Linked DNA regions of Homo sapiens: region 2 is linked to region 1. The links come from fine-mapping of genetic effects on gene expression. A gene starts in region 1. The other region holds a variant in brackets. All regions are shown on one strand. Distances are between the middles of the regions. Region 1 holds the start of GIMAP4 (GTPase, IMAP family member 4). Region 2 has its middle 4.6 kb from the start of GIMAP6.

The links. PIP is the estimated chance that this variant, and not a neighbour inherited with it, causes the effect.
Region 2: its variant is the best candidate, but not a certain one, in a credible set for the expression of GIMAP4 in non-classical monocytes (Schmiedel 2018, PIP 0.52).

The regions. Positions count from the first base shown.
Region 1 is chr7:150,565,747-150,568,659 of GRCh38, reverse strand. GIMAP4 (GTPase, IMAP family member 4) reads right to left here and starts at 1,270. Exons shown (of 3, transcript NM_018326.3): 1 at 1,223-1,270.
Region 2 is chr7:150,635,519-150,638,431 of GRCh38, reverse strand. No RefSeq gene overlaps it. Among named protein-coding and RNA genes, the nearest start is that of GIMAP6, 4.6 kb to the right of the region's middle. The variant T/C (reference allele first, on the strand shown) is at 1,572.

The sequences.
Region 1 (2,913 bases):
AATGGATAATCTCCCTGCTTCTTGCCTTTGATTGATCATTATGTCCAGCCCACATCTGATCTGTGAAAATGACAATCCATTCCTTTATTAATTAATATGTAGTGTTATAGAAACATGGTATTAATTTTAAATGTTTTATTTCATTGCTACCTACAAACATTTTGCAATGGAGAAAGATATTTGAAGAACTCTTATTGGAGCAGACTTTGAACAAAACAGGCAGAAAATGGTAGTTGTTAAAGACAGAGTCACCTCATAGGAAGCCAACAAATATGAAACACTGTGAAAAGCCAGATATTTCTTTTGAATGACTATTTCTTTATCCTTCAAGAATAGGGTATAGGAAACAGCTTCTTGTAAACAAGAGAAATCATGGCATTTTTTAAAAATCAGCTTTGGTGGCTGGTGTTAGGAGAGAGGATAGGACACCAGCAAGAAGAAAACAATACTGTGACATTCTGGGTTTTTGTGACATTCTCTGGGTGTTTCTTCATATCCTCCTTCTAGTGTGTGGGCTCTTTAATGCTGCTCTGCTGTTAATAATTCAGAGGCAAAGCCAGGAGACTGTGCTTCTGTAGGTGCTGACTTCAGGTGGCTGAATTCTCCTCTCTCTGCCTAAGGAACAAGCACCCATCAGCATCCAGCTTCTCCTGAACTGTAGAGAGTCACACCAGGTGGCATCTCCCTCCTCCTACCCGCTAAAGGGGAGCTCAATGCCCAGTAAACCCAGGACTGTCCCTGAGGAGACAGTTTCCCTAACGGGCAGCTCCGAGCAGACAGTTAACCCTGTAACAAGACCTCAGACTGCAGAGCCTCCAATCCTGACCTGGGTGCAGTCTTTGTGGGGCCACATATGGAGCTGTGCCCCTTACACATCCCAATGTTCCTCTTCCCACCAGCTCCCCCAGAGCTAATTCTGTCCGCTCACCCAACTTTATCCCTGGAAGAATCAAAGTTTCTATATAAATTCCACAACCAGCGAGAGGAAACATTTATTTGTAAAACAAGTATCCTCTGAGCAGCAATCTCTGGAAGAGGCATTGATTTGTAGGGCTCAGCCTTGAAAACAGATCACAGCCTAAAATTAGCAAAGCCAGGAAACGGGAACCAGCGAGAATATAGTCTGAAAACATGTTTACCAGACGATTTAAGATACAGGTCCCTCCTCACCAAAATCGCACATTCGTCCCGACCCCCACCACACACACCCCTATTCCCTTACCTGAAAAATCAGGATCTTGCACCCCTCTCTGATTTTGCACACAATACTAAGCCAGGATGTTGAGAAACAGGAGAAGAGAGGAAGTGAGGGGAGGAGCTGTCCAGATTTACTTGTGCAAGGGACCTGCCCACCTGATCATCCAGCAGCTCTAATAGAACTTTCTGCAGGGATGGGGTTGTTCTGTGCTGTCCAAGATGGTGACCCTTAGCCACACGTGACTACTGAGCGCTTGAAATGTGACGAGTGTGATTGCAGTTCTGAATTTTAAATTTTATTTTGTTTCAATTTATTTAAAGTTAAATAGCTACTCCATTGTCAGAATTCTAAAAGGCAAAGTCAGGCAGAACAACTTGCACCAGGCATTTTCCCCAGAAGGAAAGAAGGAATATTCAGCTTGGTATGCCTGGTGGCTACCATACTGAACCTTGCAAAGGCTCTGCAGTGAGACAAAAAACATGGGTCATGCTGTGACATTCTGGAAGAAACTTCTGGGCCAAAACTAGAGAGTTATCAGTTATTCTGAAAGACCCTTGAGCCCCTGAACCCCTGCTCAGCACAACAGGCCTCCCAGCTAAGCCCCCATACCCCTTTCTCCCAGTACCTCAGGTATGTCCTCTGAGTCCACAGTGTGTCCTTATTTCCAGGGTATGTCCATGAGTCATCTGCTAGAAGCAAAAGAGAGTAAATGACTTTCACTGGACTGACTAGGATGGGCCCAAAATTCACCTCCTGAGATGGTCCTGGAACCACTGAAATATTCTAAACACTGACATCTGACACTACTTACCACTAAAATGGAAACTTTGAGAGTATTGTAATGGGGTCCCAGCTCACCGTTATAACCAGTTATTTTTCCATTGTAAAAGGGGTCTCAATTTACCATTATACCCCACAGCTGAGACCTTATTTAGAATTACATAGCACTTTAGTAATTATAAAATTGCTAATAATTCTAAAGAGAACTGTAAGAGAAAGACATACATTTCTTTGAGGATAGAATGTGATTGGCCCTGGGTATACAAGCACAGGATGGCTACACTAAAAAGCAGAACAAGGCAATGGAATACATCTTGCACCAACAGTAAGGATAATTTACATTCCAGAGCAACATGACTTAAATAACAAAGACCACTTGGTCCCTTGGTTTGACAGGCAAACGAAGGCAAGTCCAAAAGAACAGGCAGCATGAGAAAGCATCTCCGCGATTCTGAACTGAGATACCTTAAAAGACTAGGATTATATTTTGTTTCTGAAGCCTAAACCTGGCTAGAAGGTATATATTATTCTATTTAATTACAGAAATTGATGCAAAATATAGTATTTATTTTTAGTACTATTAAAGCACTGGATCATTACTTAGGGAATCTTTATTCAGGTTACAGGGATCACTGCAGTAGGAAAGTTCTCTGTTAGGGACTACATTTGCAGTGAGCACCACGTTTCATCTAATGCTTTAACAATAAAGCAATGTGTAGACAAAAATGTCTACATTAAAGATCCAGAAATGAAAACAATAATTTGTGATACCACATTAAAAATTTAGAAAAGGAACAGCAAATTGAACCTAAAGTAAGGAGGATGAAGGAAATACTAAAGGGAAGAAATCTTGAAACAGAAAAAAAAAATAGAGAAAACCAATAAAATCAAACATGAATTCTTTGGAAATAATTAATAAAATTGATAAGCCTCTA
Region 2 (2,913 bases), 70 kb before region 1:
AACCAACAAAGATCAAAAAAGACAAAGAAGGGCATTACGTAATGGTAAAGGGGTCAATGCAACAAGAAGAGCTAATTATCCTAAATGTATATGCACCCAATACAGGAGCACCCAGATTCATAAAACAAGTTCTTAGACACCTACAAAGACACTTAAGACTCCCACACAATAATAGTGGGAGACTTTAACACCCCACTGTCAATATTAAACAAATCAACAAGACAGAAAATTAATAAGAATATCCAAGACTTAAACTCAGCTCTGGACAAAGAGGACTTAATAGACATCTAAAGAACTCCCCACCCCAAATCTACAGAATATACATTCTTCTCAGCACCACATAGCACTTATTCTAAAATTGACCACCTAATTAGAACTAAAACACTCCTCAGCAAATGCAAAAGAATGGAAATCATAACAAACAGTCTCTTGGACCACACTGAAATCTAATTAGAACTCCGGATTAAGAAACTCACCCAACTGCACAAGTTCATGGAAATTGAACAACCTGCTCCTGAATGACTACTGGGTAAATAACGAAATTAAGGCAGAAATAACAAAGTTCTCTGAAACCAATGAGAACAAAGACACAATGTACCATAATCTCTGGGACATAGCTAAAGCAGCGTTCAGAGGGAAATTTATAGCACTAAATGCACACATCGGAAAGTGGGAAAGATCTAAAGTCAACACGCTAACATCACAATTAAAAGAACTAGAGAAACAAGAGCAAACAAATTCAAAAGCTGGCACAAGACAAGAAATAACTAAGATCAGACCAGAGCTGAAGGAGATAGAAACACGAAAAACCCTTAAAAAAATCAATGAATCCAGGAGCTGGTTTTTTTTTTTTTTTTGAAGACATTAACAAAATAGAACAGTAGCCAGAATAATAAAGAGGAAAAGAGAGAATAATCGAATAGACACAATAAAAAATGATAAAGGGGATATCATCACTGATCCCACAGAAATACAAACTACCACCAGAGAATACTATAAAAAGCTCTATGCAAATAAAATAGAAAATCTAGAAGAAATGGATAAGACTAAACCAGGAAGAAGTCGAATCCCTGAATAGACCAACAAGAAGTTCTGAAATTGAGGCAGTAATTAATAGCTTGCCAACCAAAAAAGCCCAGGACCAAAAGGATTCACAGCTAAATTCTACCAGAGATACAAAGAGGAGCTGGTACCATTCCTTCTGAAACTATTCCAAACAATAGAAAAAGAGGGACCCCTTCCTAACTCATTTTATGAGTCAGAGTCATCCTGATTCTGAAACCTGGCAGAAACAGACACACACACACACACACACAAATTTCAGGCCAATATCCCTGATGAACATCATTGTGAAAATCCTCAATAAGATACTGCCAAACCAAATCCAGCAGCACATCAAAAATCTTATCCACCACGATCAAGTTGGCTTCATCCCTGGGATGCAAGGCTGGTTCAACATACACAAATCAATACATGTAATCCATCACATAAACAAAGCCAATGACAAAAACCACATGATTATATCAATAGATGCAGAAAAGGCATTCGATAAAATTCAACACCCTTTCATA[T/C]TAGAAACACTCAATAAACTAGGTATTAATGGAACATATCTCAAAATAATGAGAGCTATTTATGACAAACCCATAGCCAATATCATACTGAATGGGCGAAAGCTGGAAGCATTCTCTTTGAAAACTGGCACAAGACAAGGATACCCTCTCTCGCCATACCTATTCACATAGTATTGGAAGTTCTGACCAGAGCAATCAGGCAAGAGAAAGAAATAAATGGTATTCACATAGGGAGAGAGGAAGTCAAATTGTCTCTGCAGATGAAATGATTGTATATTTAGAAAACCCCTCATCTCAGCCCCAAAACTCCTTAAGCTAATAAAAAAACTTCAGCAAAATCTCAGGATACAAAATCAATGTACAAAAATTACAAACATTCCTATACACTAATAATAGACAAGCAGAAAGCCAAATCGTGAGTGAACTCCCATTCACAATTGCTATGAAGAAAATTAAATACCTAGGAAACAAGTTACAAGGGATGTGAATGACCTTTTCAGGGAGAACAACTACAAACCACTGCTCAAGGAAATAAGAGAGGACACAAACAAATGGAAAAACATTCCATGCTCATGGATAGGAAGAATCGATATTGTGAAAATGGCCATACTGCCTAAAGTAATTTGTAGATTCAATGCTATTTCCATTAAGCTACCATTGACTTTCTTCACCGACCTAGAAAAAACTACTTTAAATTTCATGTGGAACCAAAAAAAGAGCCTGCATAGCCAAGAGAATCCTAAGCAAAAAGAACAAAGTTCTGTAGACTTGTAGTACAGCATCACGCTACCTGACTTCAAAGTATACTACAAGTCTACAGTAACTAAAACAGCATGGTACTGATACCAACACAGATATATAGACCAATGGAACAGAACAGAAGCCTCAGAAATAACACCACACATCTACAACCATCTGATCTTCAACAAACCTGACCAAAACAAGCAATGGGGAAAGGATTCCCTATTTAATAAATGGTAGTGGGAAAACTGGCTAGCCATATGCAGAAAACTGAAACTGGACTCCTTCCTTACACCTTATACAAAAATTAACTCAAGATGTATTAAAGACTTAAACCTAAAACCTAAAATCATAAAAACCCTAGAAGAAAACCTAGGCATTATCATTCAGGACATAGGCATGAAAAAAGACTTCATGACTAAAACACCAAAAGCAATGGCAACAAAAGACAAAATTGACAAATGGGATCTGATTAAACTAAAGAGCTTCTGCACAGCAAAAGAAACTATGATCAGAGTGAACAGGCAACCTACAGAATGGGAAAAAATTTTTGCAATCTATCCATCTGACAAAGGGCTAATATCCAGAATCTACAAAGAAC